7 linked regions of the Homo sapiens genome follow. The protein of the gene in region 1 interacts with the protein of each later gene in a pairwise test. Each region holds a gene or a part of one and is shown in the gene's direction. Other genes may lie near its edges.

The links.
Region 2: the proteins of KCTD9 (region 1) and SAXO4 interact in binary tests that used the Homo sapiens proteins (3 or more experiments, as listed by UniProt).
Region 3: the proteins of KCTD9 (region 1) and PDZD4 interact in a two-hybrid assay, tested with the Homo sapiens proteins (one large-scale study listed by BioGRID).
Region 4: the proteins of KCTD9 (region 1) and MVP interact in a two-hybrid assay, tested with the Homo sapiens proteins (one large-scale study listed by BioGRID).
Region 5: the proteins of KCTD9 (region 1) and SPATS1 interact in binary tests that used the Homo sapiens proteins (3 or more experiments, as listed by UniProt).
Region 6: the proteins of KCTD9 (region 1) and ANKS1A interact in a two-hybrid assay, tested with the Homo sapiens proteins (one large-scale study listed by BioGRID).
Region 7: the proteins of KCTD9 (region 1) and CRADD interact in binary tests that used the Homo sapiens proteins (3 or more experiments, as listed by UniProt).

The regions. Positions count from the first base shown.
Region 1 is NC_000008.11:25,441,434-25,444,933, reverse strand, and holds part of KCTD9 (BTB/POZ domain-containing protein KCTD9), read left to right. Parts: intron 1-598; coding exon 599-642; intron 643-3,500. UniProt on the Homo sapiens protein: Substrate-specific adapter of a BCR (BTB-CUL3-RBX1) E3 ubiquitin-protein ligase complex, which mediates the ubiquitination of target proteins, leading to their degradation by the proteasome.
Region 2 is NC_000011.10:61,487,620-61,491,119, forward strand, and holds the end of SAXO4 (stabilizer of axonemal microtubules 4), read left to right. Parts: intron 1-2,162; coding exon 2,163-2,327; intron 2,328-2,881; coding exon 2,882-2,951; 3' UTR 2,952-2,965; intron 2,966-3,194; 3' UTR 3,195-3,309; downstream 3,310-3,500.
Region 3 is NC_000023.11:153,810,045-153,813,544, reverse strand, and holds part of PDZD4 (PDZ domain-containing protein 4), read left to right. Parts: intron 1-3,500.
Region 4 is NC_000016.10:29,837,462-29,840,961, forward strand, and holds part of MVP (major vault protein), read left to right. Parts: intron 1-2,716; coding exon 2,717-2,998; intron 2,999-3,500. UniProt on the Homo sapiens protein: Required for normal vault structure. Vaults are multi-subunit structures that may act as scaffolds for proteins involved in signal transduction. Vaults may also play a role in nucleo-cytoplasmic transport.
Region 5 is NC_000006.12:44,349,150-44,352,649, forward strand, and holds part of SPATS1 (spermatogenesis-associated serine-rich protein 1), read left to right. Parts: intron 1-3,500.
Region 6 is NC_000006.12:35,081,255-35,084,754, forward strand, and holds part of ANKS1A (ankyrin repeat and SAM domain-containing protein 1A), read left to right. Parts: intron 1-1,436; coding exon 1,437-1,562; intron 1,563-1,900; coding exon 1,901-1,972; intron 1,973-2,162; coding exon 2,163-2,249; intron 2,250-2,863; coding exon of another isoform or gene 2,864-2,866; coding exon 2,867-3,004; intron 3,005-3,500. UniProt on the Homo sapiens protein: Regulator of different signaling pathways. Regulates EPHA8 receptor tyrosine kinase signaling to control cell migration and neurite retraction.
Region 7 is NC_000012.12:93,683,875-93,687,374, forward strand, and holds part of CRADD (death domain-containing protein CRADD), read left to right. Parts: intron 1-3,500. UniProt on the Homo sapiens protein: Adapter protein that associates with PIDD1 and the caspase CASP2 to form the PIDDosome, a complex that activates CASP2 and triggers apoptosis.

The DNA.
Region 1 (3,500 bases):
TATAAGATATCTGTTTATTCATTTTTGGTTCACAATACAGTATCTGGGGTAATGGGTTGAGGAAGAGGATGTGCACTGATTGTCCAGAACTCTGGGTTATGTGCAGCCATTTACATTTGGGTGTATGGTGGATGTGTAGTGGGTAAACACTGACAGTAGAGTTACTTCCAGCTATATTTTTCCTAGATTTAATATGACAGTTTATTTCATCTCCAAAGCACACAACAGCTGATGATTTAGGGGTAAAAAATGTAAAGAAAAAAAGAATAGTTGGCTGTGACTTTAATCTATCCTTTCAGCATAATTATTCATTCTCAATTGATAAGAAAGCTGAACTCAACATCGTTTGTGTAAGGAGATTTTTTTCCCCACATTTCAAAAGTACTTTCATGTGCAAGATCTTATTTTTGAATTTAAATTCAAAGACAGTTAAGTTCAAGGGGTTAAACAAAGCATTGGAAACTTAGCTTCTTTGCAGTCTAGATTGATAGCAAAACCTATTGTCTATATAATTGTAAGGAATAGTTCCTATAAGCAACAGATAATTAATGTGATTTTTAGATTTTGATGGTAGCTTTTTAAATTTTGATTTCCCCAGGGATGATGATGTTTTGTTTGTTTGTGAAGGAGAGCCATTTATTGGTAAGTGACTTTAAAAGCCAATTTTATCTGCCAAAAAAAAAAAAAAAAGATGGAATGACAATTATTTTAAATGGGGCTATTAAGCTTAAACATTAAAAATGATCTTATGGCTGTATTCAAATCTTCACACTTTTTGATTCTGCATTGGGTATGTTAAAGTAAATTTTTTACTATATGATCGTAGTTTATTATAGATGCATGTTTTACATGCCGTTAAAATGCTCTGGAGGTATACATATTCATTAACTGTAACATAGTAAGGTAGTTTTGATCTTAGAAACAATTGTTTTGTTTGAAAATTTTTTCTTTGATGGTGAATGTCAAAATTTTTCTACGTGTTGTATTACATATTTGTGAGTAAATATTGCTTGCGTAAGTAGTGTTTGACAGTATTTCACAGTGATCAGATCAGCCAAAAAATGACTTGGTATCAACCACACACACAGGTGTGCACACACACTACCCTTTGATTTGGAAGAAAGCTTATAGTTGTATATCTCAAAAGAAAAGGCCGAAAGGAAGATAAAGTATTTGATTTATTTAGATCCATACAGTCCACACTCTGAATATTTAAGTATTTTTTAAAGCATCATACTAATTGCATTTGGTGAGTGGAAGTAGTTCTCACGATTGTTGCACAGGCAATTGTCAACTTAGAAGTAAGTGCATACTCTTGTCTGTCTGTCTCTACCTTAAAACTGTAAGCAAGAACTTCTCATCTTCTTTTATCCATTGGCCTAACAGTGACTGGCAGGCAATGGTCACTTAATTGGTCCACTGCATACAAACACAATAAAAAATGATCAATTAAGGTTTTTTTATTGTTATTAACTCATGGATTTAAAAATATTTGGTATATTTTCATCCTCTGCATTTATTGATGTTCAGATGGTCTTAATTTTTTGCCACTGGAAATCTCTTCGGGTCTTTTTAACAAACCTTGTTGGATTTTATGGCTTTCTTATTATCTGGAATAACTGGTGTTCATCTTAAAACCTTTTCCTGTCTCAGACCTGGATCAACATTTTTCCAACAAGCCTTGATTTTTTTAGTGGGAAGTGTCATTCCAAGACAAATCTGGGTGCTAGGGAGGCTCTTCGCTATTGGGTTCATTATTGTTGCTATGCCTTTTGGTGGACAGAATTGAAAATATATAGGTAGAGATAAAATTTGTATATAATGTATGTTATAGGATATAAAGTTTATATGTCATATATAACAAAATATGGATAGATGAAATAACTCATGGCTTCATAGTAGTACTTAAAGTTTATATTAAGGATTATAAGGTTTTTACTTATCCTCTTCTGTCTTACATCTGTGTCTCCTTTTTCTATATCAATAGTCCTGACTTTCAGGGACATGGAGACTAATAGAATTATAATGTCACATAATTACTCATTTACTTTACCCCATACAGAACACATCTAAAAATGTCAGAGTAACAAACTCAATACTTTCAGTACCAATATAATTACTAAAAACAGTTAAATGTTTTTCATATGCTAAATCCCTTCTCCCCTTACTTAAAAATAATTGTATTGTTTCTGAATTGTCGGAACATATAGCCATTGTATATTATAGTGTCTCCCTTTATACACTCATTTAGTTTTACTTCTTCAAGCGTACACTTACCTCCAGTCCTTTTGTTATGTTTCCAGTGTTTATCTGAAACTTGTTCTCTAGTAGATTTCTCTCCAAGATACTATGAGAACAATATTCGGTGACATCTTCCAATGGCAAGATGCCATTGCCATCCACCATCTTTATATAATTTTGGTATAAAATTATATGTCAAAGCTTATTAAATTATAAACTTTAGTATGTGTAACTTGTTCTGTGTTAATTATACCTCAGTGAAGCTATTGAAAAATCCTTGGTTCACATTATTTTTCTTTGAATATCTTAAATATGTTACTGCATTTTATTCTGGCCTGAGGTGTTGGTCTCAAAAAATCTGATCTTTCTTATGTGATTATTTTTCATAGATCACCCAAAGGATATTTCTCTTTCTTTAAAGTACAGTAATTTTAGTAGAATATTTATTGGTGTTCTGAGTTGTTCTGGATTGGTTTTCTCAGTATGTGATGGATCCTTTCAATATATAGTTTCAAGTGTATGTATTTTAAAATTTCAGTACAGTTCTCTTGAAGTTGACATTTTTATTTTGTTCACTTTGATTTGATTTCCTTCTTTCAGGACTCTATTGTATGTAGGGTGGATCTTTTACACTTGTCTTTTATGTTTGAAACTTTCTTTTCCTTTCTTTTTATTTTATTTATTTTTTTGAGACAGGGCCTCACTTCATCACTCAGGCTGTAGTGCAGTGGTATGATCTTGGCTCACTACAGCTTCAACCTCCTGGGTTCAAGTGATCCTCCTGCCTCAGCCCCCAACCAGGAGCTGGGACTGCAGATGTGTGCTACCATGCCCGGATAATTTTTTTGTATTTTTTGTAGAGATGGGGTTTTGGGGTTTTGCCCTGTTGCCCAGGCTGGTCTCGAACTCCTGAGCTCAAGCAATCCACCCGCCTCGGCCTCCCAGAGGATTATAGGCATGAGCCACCACGTCTGACCATTTCTTTTTAATTTTTCAAGCTATTCTCTTTTTTACCTTTTCTTTCCCTTAAGTCATTGTCTATTGTGTTTAATCACTCTTGTATTTCTTTTGCTTTAGTCTTTAAAAATCATTTTTCTTTTATTTCTAATTCTCTTGGGAGTTCTTGCTACTCATTTCTGAATTTTTAAATCCTGGTTTATATTGTTGTTTTATACCTTGTATAAACTTCTTTTAGCATGTTTTGGAATATTAGATTATAATTTTGATCTATTTTGTGGGTATTTCTGGCATGTTTTCAT
Region 2 (3,500 bases), on another chromosome or scaffold:
TTAAAGCCCAGGTGCCTCCTTGCTCAGGCAAAGCAGCTTCTAGCATCCCAAGGGTAGCTTTCCCACAGAGATGCAGGGCATTGGTGGCCAGGCTGGTGGGCATGGAAAGAACAGGGCAGTGCGAGGGAGTCTGGAGCAGCAGCATCTGCTAAGACATTCCATCCAGCCAATGGTTGGTGGGCTCGATGCTCCCTCAGAAGGTAAATTCTGTGCTGTGCATTCCCTGGGTTAGGAGTGACTGTCCTGGGCATCAGGGAGGGCTTCCAGGAAGGAGGTGGCCCCAGAGCCATGGGGAAGCCTCCTGGGGCCAGGACTGGGTGGGGAAAGCATTATAGGAGTGGTATAAAGGAAGTGTAATTCTTCTTCTTCTTTTTTTTTTTTTTTTGAGATGGAGTTTCACTCTGTCGCCCAGGCTGGAGTGCAATGGCGTGATCTCAGCTCACCGCAACCTTCGCCTCATGGGTTCAAGTGATCCTCCTGTCTCACCCTCCTAAATAGCTGGGATTACAGGCATGTGCCACCATGCCCAGCTAATTTTTGTATTTTTAGTAGAGATGGGGTTTCGCCATGTTGGCCCGGCTGGTCTTGAACTCCTGACCTCAAGTGATCTGCCTGCTTTGGCCTCCCAAAGTGCTGGGATAACAGGCATGAGCCACCGTGTCCTGCCAAGAAGTACAATTCCTTTTTTTTTTTTTTTTTTTTTAAGATGGAGTCTCTCTCTGTCGTCCAGGCTGGAGTGCAGTGGTGCGATCTCGGCTCACTGCAAACCCCGCCTCCCGGGTTCACGCCATTCTCCTGCCTCAGCCTCCCGAGTAGCTGGGACTACAGGCGCCTGCCACCACGCCCGGCTACATTTTTGTATTTTTAGTAGAGACAGGGTTTCACTGTGTTAGCCAGGATGGTCTTGATCTCCTGACCTCGTGATCTGCCCGCCTCCAGGAAGTATAATTCTTAGGACAAACTCCGAGCCAGGAAGCGCAAGCTTTCCTCACAACATCAGTCACCTGTGTCCACCCTGCTTCCTCTCCAACTCCTGGTCCTTCAAGGTGTCCCTGCCACCTCTCTGTCTCCTCCCCCTGCCCCACCCCCTGCTCCGGGATACCTCCCAGAATCCATTCATGGAATAGACTTTAACTGAGCCCTGACTGGGTGCCAAGCCCTGCTCCAGGCCCTGGGAATGTGTGTGCAGCTCCTGCCCTACGGAGCTCAGACCTCTGCATGGGAGGAGACATGCATGTGGCTGCAGCCAGTTAGCGAGAGCTGTTAGGTAATGCGCAAAGAGAAAGGGATCGCGAGGGCTGCAGTGCGCACGGGTCGGATTTGAAATCGGTGGCCTTGAGCAGGTGACGTTTGAACTGAGACTGAAAAGAGGGGAGGGCGGTGTCCTGGAGGAGCAACAGAGAGTCTGAGCTGGAAGGGCCGTTTGTTGTCCTCTGGCCTAAACCCTGAGGCTCAGAGGGGAGGAGCAGAGCTTCCGCCCGCACAGCAGACTCAGCACAGTGGCCGCTCCAGTTCCCACGGAGGTGGGGGAGGGGCAACGATGTTCTGACCCCTTCTTAGGCAAACACCTCCTCCTGTGGCTCTGGCAGAGACCAGCTCCAGTCCTGTCTGCTGGGTCCTTCCAGCCTGTCGTGTCCTGTTGTGTCCTGAGCTCCTGCTGGCTGTCAGGCACGCTTGCTGGTGCTTCCTGGTGCGCGCAGAGCCCCGGGATTGTCATCACTGATTCCTGCATTGATCTGTCTGCACCCCCTCTTCATAAGTTCAAGGGTGGGACCCCCTTCTTACTTGTCTTTGCACCCTCTGGACCTGGCTGTGCTCAGTGAAATGGAAGGAAATGGAAATGAAATGGAAGGAAAGTTAAGTGCCTAGAGAAGTGGATGAGACGGGGTCCCCACCCCAAGGTACTGGCAGGCCAGGGACAGGGGCATCACTGAAACTGTCCTTTAACACTCCAAAGAGTGTTTCAGCGTCAGGTGGAGGGGAGGGCAGGCTTTTTGAGTAAGAGTTCCCCCAGTGGACGTGGGCTTAGGGAGAGCTAGACGAGGACAGCATGAGCAAAGGTGGGGAGGCTGGGCGATCTGAGGGTCGATGGAGAAGGGCAGCAGGGGTTGCAGAGGTGGGCAGAGTCCAGCTTCCAGCCAAGGACCCCTCCTCTCCTCCAGGTACTTTGAGAACATCCCCAAGGGTCTAGACCAGGAAGGCTGGACTCGAGGTGGCATCCAGCCCCAGATGCCAGGAGGCTACGCCCTCAGCCAGCCGGTCAGCTGCATGGAGGCCACCCCCAACCCCATGGAGAGCCTGCGGCACCTGCATCCCCACGTGGGAAGGTGGCACCACCCCCAGCTCTGTTCTTTCTCCCTACCCCTCATCCAGGCCGTGTGCCAGGCCTTTCCCTTCCTCTCCTCTCTTGCTGTCAGTCCGGTTCATTCCTATGAGAGGCCCATCTCCTCTGGCTGGCTCTGGTGTCCCTTCTCCTGCTAGCACAGGCTCCTCCCCTCCTCTCCTTCCAGTGACCCCTCCCTCAGATGGCTCCTCCTCCCTCTCCTGCCCCTGTTCCCCAGGCCCGGTGGACTGGATGGGGAGGATCTGAGCAAGGGGCTCTGGGGTGGTTCAGATCCAGAGGGGGATGCGGGGACGGATCCAGAGATGAATGGACTGTGGTTCGGCCTCACTCAGCTCCTTTCTGCTCAATTCAATTCCTCAGAAATTACATTTATATCAACAATGGCCCAGAGTTGGCAGGCAAAGAATGTTTGTGGCTTGGCTGCCCTGGCTGAACCCTGGCTATGCTCTCTCAGGGAGGGTCAGGCAGAAGACAAGAAGACAAGGTCCATGCCCTGCCTGCCAACACCCCCAACACTCTCCTCTTGCCTCCCTGCAGAACCCTGACCTCAGCTGACCCCTTCTACCAGAACACACCTCACAGCAGCCGCTGCGTGGCACACAGCTGAGCCCTGAGCCCTTGGTAAGGGGCTGGGGATCCCCACACTCAGCTGCTCTGGTTGTGTGGGCAACCGTTATGGGCCAGCCCTGCCTCTCAAGCCCTGGGTTAAGCAAGTCCTGCCTGGGGACCCCCCTTCCAAGTGGGGGGTGACAGATCAGGGGGCCTCTCAGAACCCCTTCTCTGCCAGGCAAGCACACAGAACCACCCCAGAGCCCCTTGCTCAGGCCTCGCCTCTGCTTCTCCTCTACAGGTTTGTCAATCCTAGGGGACAGGAGCCAGGCTACTGTCTGTACCCCCACTCCATCCCCCAGGGGAACACCCCTGCCCAGCTACTTTCCTAATGAAATAAAGAGCATTGAAGCAGAGAAGTGTGACATCACTATCAGGGTGGCTGGAAAAAGGAGGGGTGAGCTGGGGCGGTGGGTGCAGGGGTGGAGGAGCTAGGGCCAGATTTGGAGTCGGAAGGGCTCGGCTGGAACCTCTGAGGAACCATGACACGATGGATAGGCACTTCATTCTCCACGCTCAGTTTCTTGTCCTGTAAAGGGGTCCTCTA
Region 3 (3,500 bases), on another chromosome or scaffold:
TAACTGCACATGCGGAATACCAGGAATTGTTTGTTCGACTGCTGGCAGACCTTTGGGCTGTCCCTGGTGTTTGGCCACTGTGGCCTTCATGCCCACATCCTCCTGGTCCTCCTGGTGGTGGTTCTGAAGGGCATCTCCTCTCATCTCATGGCTCCAAGTGCTTGCTAGTGGGTCCCCTTTGCCCTGAGCACCTGTTGATATCCTTTGCCCATGTTCTTCTTGAGTTGTTTGTGTCTGTGTTTTCTTGTTGTTTTGTAGGAATTCTTTGCATATTCTGGAAAACCCATTATGAGGTCCATGCATTGTAAGGCTCTCCTCTGAGCCCGCCTTTTTACTGTGTTTAGGGTGTCTTTTGTCGTCTAGAAGTTTTACATCTCTTCCATTATTGCTTCCCCATTTGAAATATTGAGAATTTCGTCTCTATCCCACACCATAAAGATATTGTTCTCTTGTTTTGCTTTGTCCCTGTAGGTCTTTGATCCAATTGGAATTGCTTGGCCAGGGCTTGGACTAGGTCTTCTGTCTTGGTGGGGCGAGCTCCCAGGGTGTGGAAACGTTTGCAGGTGGGGCAGGAGGGAGAGTCTGGTGGGAAGCAAGCCTGGGGTTGGCCATGTTGAGTGTTTGTGCCTTTTAGAGACTGGAGTGGTCGAGTAGGCAATCCGAGGGTTGGGGCATTACAGGGGTGGCTTTACCAGTGTGCTACCTCAGGATGGTTGGGGGTGGGGCGGGGAGGCAAGGCTCTGAGCAGGACTGGAAGAGCTGCTGTCATCAGAAGGGCCACAGTGTGGCTCCTTACCATGTGCCTGGCCCTATACCTCTTTGCTCATGGCCCCATATTTTCCCACCTTGTTGGTAGCCCTTAGCCCTTCCCCAGAGGGGAGCTCATTTCTTCCTTGGGGGTCCAGCATGACCGATGAGGAGGAGAGAGAGAGAGAGCGAGAAGGCTTCAGGAGCCCGTGGCTTCCACCCAAATACCTGCCTGGCTGTCACAGGCGATCACTCTGGTTGCTGCTGATCCGAGGTGCTGAGGCTGTGCCCACGCCCATCCCCCTCTTGACATCCCAGCCTCCGCCAGCCCGCCCAGCAAGCGCTCCTCAGTTTCCATAGCAACACTGCTGCTCGGTAATGATTCCGGGTAGAAAGGCATTCGTGCGTTCTCTGTCATCTCTGTCACCTGAGCATCCCACTGCCTGCTTGCTGTCCTGCCCCGGGAGTTCAGGAAGAAACCCTGAGGACAGCTCCGAGCCCTTCTGCTTGTGTGTTGGCTTCTCCTCAAGGGCAGTGGTAAGGTGGTAAATGTTCCCAGACAAAAAGCCCTGATTTGGAGCATTTGCCGATTTCCCTGGTGTAAATGCTGCCACTATAGCCGATTTCAAGCCACCACTGCGATGTCACTGAACTTGGAGTTGGGGGAATGCACACATAGTATTTCCATCTCCCATACCAGATGTGAATAACCCCAAAAGCACAGATGACAGAAAAGTGTAGTAAGATAATTAGACAGTGATGTGTTCCGAGGATTTATTGCCTTTGTTGTTAATATCATTCAGTTACCTGTACATTTCTACGGTTAAAATACCAATAATCGCTGTGTTTGACAACTGGCTTCCAAATTTCCCAGCTTCAGTTGGCTCTAGCCACTGCTGCTGAGAGTGTCGAGGCCATTCCATCATGTCCCTTTGTCTACAGCCTTCCTGAACCCACACTCTGCTGCCGCCCACCCTCTTCCATCCTGCCTTTCTAACTGTAGCCTCTCCACCAAGCACAGCATGCCCTGTCCTGACTGACATTCTTACGGTCTTCCAACAAATACCTTCTTGGCTGAAAGCTGTTTCCTTTATAGTATTTGATCCAGAAATTCCACCTCAAGAAATTTTCTCCACCTTGACAACCACTGGTTACACAAAGATTTAAGTATGAAAAATGTATAAAATGGACCCCAGAATGTGTCTTTGCCACATTCTTTATAATAAAAAATCAAAGCCACCCTTACTGATGTGATGATGAACATGATGGTCCACTGGTGTGTTGGTGTGGATGGACCTTAAGGGGCCTGCAGCTGCAAAATGGCACACATAGAAAACAGACTGGAAGGAAACAGGCCGCATGGCCAGGTGCGGTGGCTCATGCCTATAATCCCAGCACTTTGGGAGGCTGAGGCAGGAGGATTACTTGAGGTCAGGAGTTTGAGACCATCCTGGCCAACATAGTGAAACCCCATCTCTACTAAAAATACAAAAATTATCCAGGCGTGGTGGTGGGTGCCTGTAATCCTAGCTATTGGGGAGGCTGAGGCAGGAGAATCACTTGAACCCAGGAGGCAGAGGTTGCAGTGAGCCAAGATTATGCCACTGCACTTCAGCCTGGATGACAGAGCAAGACTCTGTCTAAAAAAAAAAAAACAACAGCTGGGTGTGGTGGCACACACCTGTAGTCCCAGCTACTTGGGAGGCTGAGGCAGGAGAATTGCTTGAGCCCAGGAGGTGGAGGTTGCAGTGAGCCAAGATCGTGCCACTGCACCCCAGCCTGGGCAACAGAGCAAGACTCCATCTCAACAAAAAAAAGCCCCCAAAAAACAAAAAAATGAACTGTGTTTCTTTTATAATCGGACAAAACTGATTTTGACAAAAAGCTCTTTTCAGAATATGAAAATTTTGGGGAGAAGGGAGACATAGAAAACTTCAATGATTATCTACAAGGACATAGTCAAATAGAAAAAAAGTAATGCAGGAGCCGCTGCTGAGGCCACAGGGGTTCCGAGGACAAGCTGGGCTCTCCTCAGATAGCTGTCTTCCCGAAAAGACTCGTACAGCGGTGGTTCTACTGTATCGCGGGCACTAAGACAAGATTTTGCCGTCAGAATTGACATCTCTGTGAGAAACCCGGGGTGGGAGGTGCCGCCGTGAGAATGCAGGACAGAGAGTTCTTCTAAACTTGCTAATATTCGCACAACTCGGAAAAGCAGAGGGCTCCGTGCAGGCGCAGCCACCTGCGCCCATGCCCAGGGCCCTTCTGCCCTCTCATCTGGCACAAGCTCCCAGCCTGCTCCATCCCTAGGCGGACTCTGGGTCTCCTCGCCCTGCCCTCTCTGTGCTGACTGGGGGCTTTGCTTCCAACTGCAAACCAGCCTCCCTGGGTCTTTTCTTGGCCCTGTTCCCTTTGCCTGATGGAGGCCAGGTGTCCCCTGCTCCAGAAGCCTTCCCCGCCTCCCACCGAGGCGTGCATGGCCAGCCGTGTGCTCCCTTAGCTGTGGGTAAGGTCTGTCCCCACGCTCACCTGCGGGGCATAGCCATTTGGGCATAATGCTAGTGTGTAGCCTCCCCAGGCCCAGAACAGCCCTTCCATAAGCCGCTGAGCCCATGAGGAGACCCTGCACGCCTGCCTCGAGCTGCCTCCTCCTAGAAGTGCTTCCTGCTGACCCTTGCTGGCCCCATGGCACGTGCCCTGAATTCTGGTGGAGTCTGTTCAGTCCTTCTTGGTCCTTAGTCATTCGTCCCTTC
Region 4 (3,500 bases), on another chromosome or scaffold:
GCTTCGTTATAGGCCAGCACAGTGGCTCATACGTGTAATCCCAGCACTTTGGGAGGCCGAGGCAGGTGGATCACTTGAGGTCAGGAGTTCGAGACTAGCCTGGCCAACGTGGGGAAACCCTGTCTCTACTAAAAATACAAAAATTAGCCAGGTGTGGTGGCACACACCTGTAATTCCAGTTACTCGGGAGGCTGAGGCACGAGAATCACTTGAACCCTGGAGATCAAGCCTGTGGTGAGCCGAGATCGTGCCACTGCACTCTAGCCTGGGCGATAGAGTGAGACTCTCAGAAAAAAAAAAAATCTCCATTATAATCTTACGGGACCACCATGTGCAGTCTGTAATGGACTGAACTATCATGCAGTGACTATATTTCACATCTTTAATATCCTGGTGTTCACTTTGCTTTGTCATCTTTTGTAAAATAAACCTCTTGGTTTACCCTCTCCCACCCCCTACTTCATCCCCTCTCTGAACTATATGTGGGAATACCAGCAGTTGCCAAACTCATTCTGTAAAGGGGGCTGGATGGTAGATACTCCAGGCTCCGTGAGTCATTGTTTCTGTGGAAGTTCTTCAACTCTGCTGTTATGTCAGGAAAGCAGCTTGGGCACTACGTAAACAAGTGAGTACTGCCATGCTCCTGGAATAGTTTATCTGCAAAAACAGGAGGCAGAAAAAGTAGAAATAGGCCAGGCATGGTGGCTTACATGTGTAATCCCAGCACTTTACGAGTCCAAAGCGGGTGGATCGCTTGAGGTCAGGAGTTAGAAACCATCCTGGCCAACATGGCAAAACCCTTTCTCTACTAAAAATACAAAAAAATTAGCTGGGCATGGTGTCAGGCACCTGTAATCCCAGCTTCTCTGGAGGCTGAGGCAGGAGAATTGCTTGAACCCGGGAGGCGGAGGTTGCAGTGAGCCGAGATCACACCACTGCACTCCAGCCTGGGTGACAGAGCAAGACTGTCTCAAAAAAAAAAAAAAATTAGAAATAACCCAAATGTACATATATAATGAATGGATAAAAAATTGTAGCATATCCATACAATGGAATATCATTCAGCCATAAGAAAGAAATGGCAGGCCAGGCGCAACAGCTCATGACTATAATCCCAGTGCTTTGGGAGGCCGAGGCAGGAGGATTGCTTGAAGCCAGGAGTTTGAGACCAGCCTGGGTAACATAGTGAGACCCCATTTTTACAAAAACTTTTAAAAATTGACCAGGCATGGTGGCACACCTGTAGTCCCAGCTATTTGGGAGGCTAAAGTGGGAAAATCGCTTGACCCCAGGAAGTGGAGTGTATAGTGAGCTATGATTGTGCCACTGTACTCCAGCCTGAGGCAGTAGAGTGAGATCCTGTCTCTAGGAAAAACAAAAAATAATGACATACGTGCTACAACATGGATAAAATTGAAAATGTTATGCTAAGTGAAAGAAGCCAGCTGGACGCAGTGGCTCACGCCTGTAATCCTAACACTTTAGGAGGCTGAGGTGGGCACATCACCTGAGGTCAGGAGTTCAAGACCAGCCTGGCCAACATGGTGAAGCCCCGTCTCTGTTAAAATACAAAAATTAGCTAGCATGATGGCGGGTGCCTGTAATCCCAGCTACTGCTCGGGAGGCTGAGACAGGAGAATCTCTTGAACCTGGAAGACAGTAGTTGCAGTGAGCCGAGATCCCACCACTGCACTCCAGCCTGGGCTGCTGAGCCGAGACTCCATCTCAAAAAAAGAAAAAGAAAAAAGCCAGACATCAAAGACCACATATTGCATGATTCCATTTATGTGAAATGTCCAGAATAGGTAAACACATAAAGAAAATAGACTAGTGGTGGGTGGGGTAGGTGGGGAGTGGCAGTAACTTCTAGGTACAGGATTTCTTTTCAGGGTGATGACGAAAATACTCTAGACTTAACATAGCAGTGATGGTTGGACAACTTTGAGTATACTAAAACAACTGAATTGTGAATTGTATACTCTAGATGGGAAAATTTCATATGTGGATTATATCTCAAAATTTTTTTAAGAAACAGGCGGTGCTGGGCGTGGTGGCTCACATCTATAATCCCAGCACTTTGGAAAGCTGAGGTGGGTAGATCGCTTGAGTCTAGGACTTTGAGACCAGCTTAGGCAGCATGGCAACACCCCATCATCTACGAAGCACACAAAAATTAGCTGGGTGTGGTGATGCGCATCTGTAGTCCCAGCTCCTTGGGAGGCTGAGGTGGGAGGATTGCTTGAGCCTGGAAGGTTGAGGCTGCAGAGAGCTGAGATCATGCCACTGCACTATCCAGCCTGGGCAAGAGAGGAAGACTATCTCAAAAAAAAAAAAAAAAAAAAAAAAAGGCAGAATCCAGATTTGGCCTGAAAACCAGAGTTTGTCAAGCCCTAGGTTACACCATCTCTAGAAAACAAAGCCTGGGAGAAAGAAGAAAAAACAGGTTGATTTTTAATGGTTTAGCTTGCGTGGATCCAGGTCCTGACAGTTATGGAATCTTTCAAGGACACATTTGACCAGATGAGATTTGGCAGGCGTTTGTGTAGAGCCTCACAGTCCAGACAGTGCCTCACCGTATTATGATGTGGGGGTGGGGGCGGGCTTCTGGTGCTCTTGTCCTCCACACAGGCCTGAAACAGCACAGGACTGGGGAGGTACCATTGGAAGCACCCGCAACCCTAAAGGCACTGACCCTAACCTCACGTCTCCCCACTAGGGAGAGAAGTCTTTTTTCCTCCAGCCAGGAGAGCAGCTGGAACAAGGCATCCAGGATGTGTATGTGCTGTCGGAGCAGCAGGGGCTGCTGCTGAGGGCCCTGCAGCCCCTGGAGGAGGGGGAGGATGAGGAGAAGGTCTCACACCAGGCTGGGGACCACTGGCTCATCCGCGGACCCCTGGAGTATGTGCCATCTGCCAAAGTGGAGGTGGTGGAGGAGCGCCAGGCCATCCCTCTAGACGAGAACGAGGGCATCTATGTGCAGGATGTCAAGACCGGAAAGGTAATGGCTGGGAGTGAGCAGCAGTGCTGCCACGTGGCCTTGGCCTTGGTGGCGGCTTCCTCTGGGTGTGTGGAAGAGGTGGGCAGGGACTTCAGCAGCATGGAGAGCCATATCAGGTGGGCTGTCTGGTTGGGGGAGGGCACTACGTGGAGTGTTTGCCATCCTTCTGCCTTAAATGTCTCATTTGAAATGTTAGAACCAACCAGGTGCGGTAGCTCACATCTGTAATCTCAGCACTTTGGGAGGCCGAGGCGGGCGGATCACCTGAGGTCAGGAGTTCAAGACTAGCCTGGCCAACATGGGAAACCCTGTCTCTACTAAAAGTACAAACATTAGTCAGGCGTGGTGGTGGTCTGAGTAGTCCCAGATACTTGGGAGGCTGAGACAGGAGAATTGCTTGAACTGGGAAGCGGAGGTTGCAGTGAGCCGAGATCACACCACTGCACTTCAGCCAGGGTGACAGAGTGAGACTCTGTCAAAAAAAAATATTAGCATGTCCACT
Region 5 (3,500 bases), on another chromosome or scaffold:
TAAGCTGGGTGTGGTGGCATGCACCTGTAATCCCAGCTACTCGGGAGGCTGAGGCAGGAGAATTGCTTGAACCCTGGAGTTGGAGGTTGCAGTGAGCCGAGATTATGCCATTGCACTCCAGCCTGGGCGACTCTGGCTCAAAAAAAAAAAAAAAAAAAAAAAAGAAAGAAATGCTGCATCACTCAACTCACATTTTTATTGAAATATTAGGTCAGTATTAGGTGGAAAGTGTGGACAATAGTGATTGAGTTGAAAGTGGTTTAGTAGTCAGATTTCTGAATGTGCATAAGATTTAGGAATGCCTTAACCAGTCTATTGTGCTTATATTTTCCTTCTTTATATATGTGCATGAGTGATATGTGATTAAAATCTATAAATAAATTAAAAGAATGCATCAATAAGTATAAAATAAAAATTCTAAGTGATAAAAGCATGTATCATACTTTAATTGGCAGCCTTTGTTCTTTGTGATACATAAAATAACGATGCTATTACAATTGATGGTGCCTTATATTCAGTGAAATACAGCATATGCATTCAAGGCCCCAGATTTCTAATTACTGCTTTAGTTGAATCCCACAAGTTTTGATATATAGTACTCAATGTTCATTGATCATTAAGCAACTCATGATTTCCATTACAATTTCTTCTTGTATGTGAATTATTTAGAAGTGTGGTTTGAGTTTCCAAGCTTATGGATACTTTTTGGCTGTCTTTTTATTATTGATTTCTAATTGTATTGCATTGTGGTCAGAGAGTGTGGTCTATGTATTGTTGATACTTGTTTTGTGGCTTGGTATATGGGTGGTTCTTCCTTTGGTTACTGGGGACCCGTCTCCTCATCCTCACCTGCTGCTTGCCTGCCACCTCCCCTGGGCTTGACTCCATCCCAGTTACACCTCAAGCAACCAGTTGGACCTCACTGTGCTGGGGGCTGCTCTAGGCTCTAGGGCATATTCCAGAGCAGCACTTCCCACACTTGGCTGACCCTAAGAATCACCTGAGGTGCTTCTTAAATATCCTGGCTCCCAGACTGTAGGTCTGAGTCAGAGCCCTGGGGCCTGCATATTGAACAAGTACCCCAAGGGGATTCTCGTGACTGGGCAAATTCAGGAAGTTCTGTGCAGTTGGGAATCTGGAAGTGGAACTGGATAAAATACAGTGCAGTGATGGAACTAGACTTCAAGAAGGAGATTACTGCCAAACGTGAGCCTAAATGAAGAGCAGGGGTGAGGGTGGGGGCTTATTTAAAATGCAGGTTCCCAGGCCTCACTTGGAGAGATTCTAATTCAATAGGTCTGCGATGGAATTTGAGAATCTGTATTTTTAACAGGCTTCCTGGGTAATTCTGATGCAGATAGGCCTTGCGCCATGTCCTGAGAAGCCCCAGAGTGGGAGGATTTTGAAGGGAGGGAGTAGCTCAGCTGAACTTTAAGCTTTGTAGAGTAACAGGCAAAGTCCTCTTAGGAGTGAAAGGTTTGGTGATAGATCGGGACTTGATAAGAATGGAAAAGGTATTATTCACTTGTGATATGAATTTGAGAGGAAATGAATAAAAAATTCTCTGAGTAGCAGTCCTGCTGATAGATGGTGGGAATTTGCATAGTTTACACTATACAGTCATATCAACGGGTTCTGCATTGGCAGATTCGACCAACTGCCCATAGTAAATATTCAAAAAGGAAACAACAAGTCTGGGTGTCGTGGCTTACACCTGTAATCCCAACACTTTAGGAGGCTGAGGCAGGTGGATTGCTTGAGGCCAGGAGTTTGAGACCAGCCTGGCCAACATGGTGAAACCTTGTCTCTACTAAAAATACAAAAATTAGCCAGGCATGGTGGCGAGTGCCTGTAATACCAGCTACTCATGAGGCTGAGGCAGGAGAATCACCTGAACCCAGAGGCGGAGGTGGCAGTGAGCTGAGATCACACCACTGAACTCCAGCCTGGGTGACAGAGTGAGACTCTGTGTCAAAAAAAAAAAAAAAAAAAAAAGAAAAAAGAAAAGAAAACAACAATATAACAACAAAAATAATACAAATAAGTATATAACAACTATTTACATAGCATTTGCATTGTATTAGGTATTACAAGTAATCTAGAGATGATTTACAGTACAGCATACAGGAGGATGTGCATATGTTATATTCGAATACTACACTGTTTCATATAAACGATTTGAGCATCTTTGGATTTTTGTAATTTTTGTATTGCGGGGGTCCTGGAACCAATCCCCCGTCGATACCAAAAGATGACTCTATATGTGTGAAGCATGATACTGTGTAGGTGGAATAGTAGTCAGTCTAAAAATGTACTCAAGAATCAGAGTTTGACTCTTATTTCTTACAATTTTCTCATAACCAGAGGTTACATTGCCATCTATTGAGCTTTAGTGCTCTACGAAATTATGCATAAAGAAATATGCATAATCTTTTCATCGGACTTTTTATTTTTGTGGCTGGATGAGGTACATAACTGTATGAGATGATAACAGAACAAATTGGCTTTCATGAAGTATTAATAGTATAGCAGAGTGAAGATAATGGATATTCTTCTATGTCTGACACTCACTGGTTTTCAGGACTCCCTTACTTGTAACTGTGGGTGGTTGGGGAGTTATAATTCTTTTTCATTTATTCACTCAAACATTTATTGAGCACCTGCTTTGTGCCAGGCACTGTTATGGATTCTACTAAGATGAATAAGAACTGTGAGGGGAACCCACAGAAGTTTCTGAGGGCATTCTTTGGGTTGTGATCAGCATTATATTCATCAGTCTTTTTATAAACAAATCCTTTGGAAAATTATATTGAGATGCTTAATACAATGTACAGTGCTATATAGCTCACTTCAGATCCTAGGTCTTCCACTTAGTTCAGAGTAGGTGAACTATATGTAGGGGCAAGCAGTCTAGTACAGGGCTTAGAATCTCAGGCTTTAGTGTCACAAGAGCTGTAATCAAATATGGGCCTAGATGTTTTCTTTTTTCTTTTTTGTTTTTCTGAGACAGAGTCTCTGTTGCCCAGGCTGGAGTGCAGTCATGTGATCTCGGCTCACTGCAACCTCTGCCTCCTGGGTTCAAGCAAGCCTCCCACCTCAGCCTCCCAAATAGCTGGGATTACAAGAGTGTGCCACCATGACCAGCTAGTTTTTGTTTTTTGTAGAGACGGGGTTTCACCATGTTGGCCAGGTTGGTCTCGAACTCCTGACCTCAAGTCAGGGTGGATCTTATCTGATCCACCCACCTTGGCCTCCCAAAGTGCTGAGATTACAGGCATGAGCCACCACGCCGGGCCTAGATGTTTACTTTTTATGCAATCATAGGCAAGTTTCTTAGCCTTCTCAGCCTCAGTTTTCTCAACCATAAAATGGGGATAATAAGGAATACCTAAGCCTGTGGGTTGTTATAGGGATAAATGGAATAATATGTGTAAAGGTGTTGACATAATCCTCAGTGCACAGTAAATGTTCAATAAATGTTAGCTGTTTTAAAAATTTAT
Region 6 (3,500 bases), on another chromosome or scaffold:
CAGTTGGGCTGGCACCAGAGTCAGGAGGCACTAGCCTGCTCTGCTCGCCCACACCCAGCCGCCTTGCGTAAGGCCCACCCAGCACCCATGGTGCCGAGCTCGGGCCGCACAACTCACTTTAGCTGTCAGCTGCTGGGGCCACTCCTGTGTCCTGTACTTCCCTCCCTCAGGGGTTCAGATCCCCTGTCCGCTCTTTCTCTGTGGCCTCTTGCGTCCTGCACTGCCTCCCCTGCTGGCCCCAGAGCCCTCTGTGCTCTCCTGGCCTCTGAGCTCCTTCTTGGCCCCTTCCTTCTCTGCTTACCCACGTTGTTCCCCAGAACTGCTTTCCCTGCAGCTTCACCTCGGCAGCATTCTCTTCCTCCTGCTCAGCAAAACCACAGCCAGACCAGATTCTGTTCTTCCTGTTCTCTGCCTGCAGCCCCGTGGGGGGCACCGCTGGAGACGCCTCCTCCGCTCCCGGTGCCCGCTCCAGCCCTGGCGGAGGTGGGCCCGTCTCACACTCCTGGCTCACCTTCTCAGGGCATCATTTCCAGGGGTCCTGGATTTACTCAGGACCTGCCTGTCCTGCCTCCCTCCTTGTACGGACCTTGGCTTTGTCCTTTGTCCTCTTCTTGGCCTGTCAGACACAGGATTAGCAGGTGTCCCTCAGGCCCCTCCGGGTGAACTTCAGCTTCACCCCTGCTTGTTTCTCTGACTCTCACTTCTCACTTCTGGCTCTGGGGACTTCCTTTCCCTTTCTACAAGCACAGCCATGAGTTTTAAAGGATTTTTAAACACATTGTCCAGCAATTCCGGTTGCTGTTGAGAGGCTCTGCGCACTGCTGGGAAGGGAGGGCCTCCGTGTTTCCTGAATCTTTTCCTTCCTCTCCATTCCTTCCACCAGTGCCCTGGACAGGGACCCATGATCTCTCACCTGGACCGCAGTGGCCTCCCCCACCCCCTAGCTGCTGCCAGAAGGATCCATTTGGAATGCATTCCTAGGCACGGGCGGGTGCTTCACTGGCTTCCCCGCTGTGAAGATCCCTCCCAGGCCCTGGGCTGGGTCCCAAGGCGTCCCAGGGTCTCGTGGGCGCTGTTCTCTCCTTTGGTCTTTGTGCAGAACAGCCTGGCAGCCTGTGCCCCCCACACAGACTCTGCCATCTCCTCTCTGGTCATTTCCCATCTCCTTTGAGACTCATCTCGGACACCACAGAGACTGTCCTTCCCAAGCCCTGCTCTCAGGCGGTTTGGGTCCCTGCTGTGCCTCTGCTGTGGCTAGCACCTCCCCTCTCCCGCAGTGTGTTTGAATTGCTGGTCTGCCCCCTGCCATCTCCACTCGACCCTTGAACTTGCTAAGGTCACTGGCATCTTCACCCTTGAGTGTGCTGGAGCCAGGCAGCAAGCCCATGTGCTCCTCTGGAGCAAGGAGCAGGTGTCCAATTGCGTGTGTTTCGCAGGAGGAGCACCGTGAGGCCAAGCTGACCCTGCGGCCCCCGAGCCTGGCAGCCCCCTACGCCCCAGTGCAGAGTTGGCAACACCAGCCAGAGAAACTCATCTTCGAGTCCTGTGGTTATGAAGCCAATGTGAGTTGCTCCCACCCTCCCAGCAGGGCCGGCCTCCCTGCTCCTTCTCGGCCAGGCACCTGCGGCCAAGTCCCAGCAGGGACTCCACAAAGCCAGGCCCAGGGCTTTTGAGCTGTTCTCCACTCTCAGCCACTCTTGACAGCTAAGGCGAAGGGGTGGAGGCCTCTGGATCCTTTAGCTAGGGAGTTGAATGGAGGGTCTCTCCAGCTGGGGCAGGAGAGGGGGTGTTGTTATTGAGAGGGGTAACTACTTGATTGTGGGACAGTCCCAAATTGGTTGGGTCACCCCTGCATGGAAACGCAGGATTTCCTAAGCCTGGCCACTGCTCGCCCCCACAGTATCTGGGCTCCATGCTGATCAAAGATCTGCGAGGGACAGAATCCACGCAAGACGCCTGTGCCAAGATGCGGGTAGGGTGCCTGTGTGGGCTGGAGGGCGCTGTGGGACTGGCCAGCAGAAGGCAGCAATGGGGGCAGTAGCTGCAGTTGCCTGGGCCCTGCTGCACTATGTAAGGATGGGAAGGAAGCTGGGACCTGTGGAAGCCCAGGAGGCTTAGCCCTGAGAAGGGGCACTGACAGGGCCACCCCTTGTTTCCTGTAGAAATCTACGGAGCACATGAAGAAGATCCCCACCATCATCCTGTCCATCACATACAAAGGTGTCAAGTTCATCGATGCCTCCAACAAGGTGTGCTGCTTACAGGGACTCTTGGTGGGAGTGGGACCCACATCCCCGTCAGACCCACAGGGCTCCAGGGCAAGCAACCCGGCTGCCCTGTCTCATCTCTTATCTCCCTAGAGGGTCCCCAGTCCTCTTATTACTTCCCACTTTGCTAAGAGGCGTGTCTCTCATCTGCTGGCCTGGGTGCCTGCTGTCAGCCCCGTCCCCGCCCTAGTGATCACTGCTGTTAGCCTCGCCACCTGGGCTCCACTGGCCGCACACCTGCTCACAGGTGTGATTCCCTCCGTGAGCAAAGGACTTTCTCTGTGTGCCACCGTGTGGGATCCCACCTTCCTGACACCCTTCCCACTTTGCCCCCACCCTGGAAGGTGGGAGGGGCTGGGGAGAGCTTGTGGTTGGGTGTGAACATTTTACTGCCTTAGTTGTTGTGGTAAGGGGTGGAGACCCCAAACCAAAATCGGGGACCCCCACCCCCACCAATAAACAAAATGAGAAGATGAAGGGGGGTTTGCTTGATGCTCTAGGCTGGGACAGAGAACAGTGACAATGGTAACAGGCTGGGGCAGGGGGTGCCAGAGGCATGCCTGAGCCTGAGAATTCCAGAACACGGCTTTCCCCAGCAGAACGTCATTGCAGAGCACGAGATCCGGAACATTTCCTGTGCGGCCCAGGACCCGGAGGACCTCTGTACCTTTGCCTACATCACCAAGGACCTGCAGACCAGCCACCACTATTGCCATGTGTTCAGCACCGTGGATGTGGTGGGTGGGGTCCTGGGGCCGGGTGGGGCAGGCTTGGGTTGCAGCCCTGAGGCGTCCAGCCCCATTGCAGGGCACAGATGCGGCGCTGTCCTGGCCCCTGGCCAGTGCCTGGCAAATGTTTGGTTCATGAATGGAGCCCAGCAGCACTCAGGCCGGTCCCCTTTCACAGTGATGAGACTGACGCGCAGAGGGAACAGGGACTGGCCCAGGGCACTAGGGACAGGAGGTTCCAGCTTTTTTTTTTTTTTTTTAAGAGATGGAGTCTCACTATGTTGCCCAGGCTTGCCTTGCACTCCTGGGTTCAGGCAAGTTACCCACCTCAGCCTCCCACGTAACTGGATAATAGGCGTGAGCCACCGCCCCTGACTTTCCAGCTTTTTGGCGAGTGTTTTCTTAGGTCAGGCAAGGCCTTTGTTTCCCCCGGCTCCCTGCCCTAGGTCTCCAACCTCTGGCTGGGCCGCCTCCCAGAAATGCCCTCTACTTCCCTCTTAGGGGC
Region 7 (3,500 bases), on another chromosome or scaffold:
GTAAGTTCAGTGTTGGTCTCAGTGTATCTAGCTTGCAGTCTATCCATGTGCTTCCACTGTGACTGAGTAGTGTTTGCCTAGTGGCGTCCTGTGTGCTAGAGTGAGAACAGTGGGTCAGTATCCATAGCAAGACCCTTCCCTCGGTAAAGGGAGAGTCTGCAGAGGGCCCAGGTTTCTGTGTATACCCAGCCCGATTTTCATATACTTCCTAAGGACCTACTGAATGCCAGGTACTGGGTATATAAAGACAAATGGAGGATCTCCAGATCAGTTGAGGGCATTCATGCGTTCATCCAGCAAATATTTGCTGAGTCTTGACCATGTGCTAAACCAGAGGTCCCCAGCCTTTTTGGCGTCAGAGACTGGTTTTGTGGAAGACAATTTTTCAACCAACGGGAGAGTTGGGGGGAATGATGGTTTCGGGATGAAACTGTTCCACCTTAGATTATTACCAGGCATTAGATTCTCATAAGGAGTGCGCGACCTCGATCTCTGGCATGTGCAGTTCACAATAGGTTCATGCTCCTATGAGAGTCTAATGCCACTGCTGATCCAATAGGAGGAGGAGCTCAGGTGGTAATCCTCGCTTGCCTGCCACTTACCTCCTGCTCTGCGATCCGGTTCCTAATAGGCCACGGACCGGTATGGGAGTTGGGGACCCCTGTGCAAGACAGTAGGTGCTGGAGATATAACAGTAAACAAAACAAAGCCCTTATTTTCATGGAGTTCAATGTATTCTAGTAGAGGGAGGGGATAAGGGCAGGGACAGATAATAAGCAAATGAATAAATAACATTTGGTGGTGAAGAGCGCTATGAAGAGAAGCGGTATGTGTGGTGGTGGGGGTGGTCAGGGAAAGCCTCTCTGATGAGGGGACACTGAGCAGAGAACTGAGTTTGGCTGCAGAGTTGATACAGGGAGGAGAGCTTTCAGATAGAGGGGACCACAAATACACAGGAAGTCAAGTGGGAGCCACAGGTGACAATGTGGCTAATAAGACACCTTCCTCCCTGGGATGAATCACATTCCACATCAGCAGAGGCTCAGTGGCTACCTTTTGTTTTGCTCTCAACATGTGAGATGTGTGTGCAGCCGTGATCTTGTGTGGCTCGTAGCATGACTTTAGTTGATACGTGGATGTGGGATTAAGTAATATTGAATTACATGATGAGAAAGTTATTTCCTTTCTATTTCTGTTTCAGTTCGGTAAGAATGATAGGAGGTCCTCATGCTTAAAGCCTTCTGTGGGCAACAGTATTTAGCTAGAATCTAGTTGTATTGCTTTTTTTGTGTCAACTTAATGGGTTCCTTCCATTTATGGCAAGCAAAACTTTTCTATTTACGAAGTTCCTTTTAAAAATACATGACTTTTAGAGACTAGAATTGTGGTTATTAGGGACTGGGAAGGGTATGAGGGAGGCAGGGATGGGGAGGTTGGTTAATGGATACAAAATTACAGCTAGATGGGTGGAATAAGTTCTAATGTCCTAGCACTGTAGGGTGAATATGGTTAACAGGAATTTATTATGTGTTTTCAAAATGCTAGAAGAGAGGATTTTGAATATTCCCAGCACAAAGAAAGAATAAATGTTTGACATGATGGATATACTGATTGCCCTTATTTGATCATTACACATTGTATGCATGTATTGAAATGTTACCCTGTATCCCATAAATATATACAATTTTTATGTATCAACCAAAAATAAAAAGAAAAATGTTCATAGGAATATTGAATAGGAAATAAGATTGAAAGTATACCAAATTATTTAGGAAAAAACCATTACTTACATTTAAGTAGAAATGTGTCAACATAAAGGAGACTATAAAAAAATAGGCCAGGCACAGTGGCTCACTCCTGTGATCCCAGCATTTTGGGAGGCCGAGGCGGGCAGATCACCTGAGGTCAGGAGTTTGAGACCAGCCTGGCCAACATGGTGAAACCCCCATCTCTACTTAAAATACAAAAATTAGCCAGGCGTGGTGGCAGGCGCCTGGAATCCCAGCTACTTGGGAGGCTGAGGCAGGAGAATCGCTTGAACCTGGCAGGTGGAGGTTGTAGTGAGCTGAGATCGCGCCATTGCACTCCAGCCTGGGGGACAAGAGCGAAACTTCGTCTAAAAAACAAAACCAACGGAAATAATGGTTGGGTGTAGTGGCTCATGCCTGTAATCCCTACACTTTGGGAGGCTGAGGCGGGTGAATCACTTGAGGTCAGGAGTTTGAGACCAGCCTGGCCAACATGGTGAAACCCCATTTTTACTAAAAATACAAAAAATTAACCGGGTGTGGTGGCAGGCACCTGTAATCCTAGCTAGTCAGGAGGCTGAGGCAGGAGAATTGCTTGAACTCAGGAGGTGGAGGTTGCAGTGAGCCGAGATTGTGCCACTGCACTCCAGCCTGGGCAACAGAGTGAGACTCCATCCCCCCCAAAAAAAAAAAAAAAAAAAAAGAAAAGAAAATAATAATGGTGTGAGGATGTGGCCAAAAGTTGCTTTTCATCATATATTTTTTTAATTTAAAAAGAAAGACAGGCATTTGGGGGAGGAGCCATCACCTGGCTGGCATAGTTAAAGCAGGAAGGCTCCAGTTCTAGTATAGATAGTAGATAGAGCTGTTTTCATGATGCTTCACAGTTTTGCTCTTTCAATTTATGCCCAGTGATAGGAATTAGTTAAATTAACTAGAATTTCAAAATTCGTAAGTTCTCTAAATTTTAAACACATTTACTTGCTAGTGAAACAAAGTCAGCAAGATGGAGCCATATCCTGGTATTATGAATTTTAGAACTGGGTGGGACTCACAGGTCATCTAATTTTTCTCTGAGAAAACAGAGGCCTAGGGAGATTAAGTCAACTTGCCCATGATCACACAGCTAGTTAATGTAATTTATTACTGGGACTAGAATCCAGGCTTTGCAACTCTTGATTTAGGACTTTTTCTGCTGCGCAATCTTGGCTTCCCACTGAGTTTGAAATGGAATTGTATTATGCTGCAGTGTTAATAATTGAAAGAGGCTTTTTAAAAATTGTACTAATGCATTTTTTTTTTTTTCATTTTAAGAGGAGAATTTCCAAGGGCCTTTAGAGGTATGCTGGAATGAGATTTCACTAAAATATTTTATTTTTATGAATGCTAATTTTAATCATTTAAAAGGAAATGATGATCGTTCAGTACTGCATTTTGTCACAAGATTTTTTTCTTCCTACCTCTGCAAGGCTGACATAAAGGAAAAGCGGAAGACTTTCATCGAGTATTTATGGGACTGATGAAATAATGCATCTGTTGGCAGCTAATTGCAGGTCTTTCTAGGAATAGCAAACATGTGACAGGTCTTGCCCCAGCGGAGATGCCTCCATTTCACTTTAAAACATGGATTTGGTATTCTTTTCACTTAGAAATTCTGGCTATGCCTTTTTTTCTCCCTTCTGTGGATGTATAGACCGTTCGGCTGCATCAGACACTGTATTGAACATCAGGGTTGATTTAACTCATTGTTGC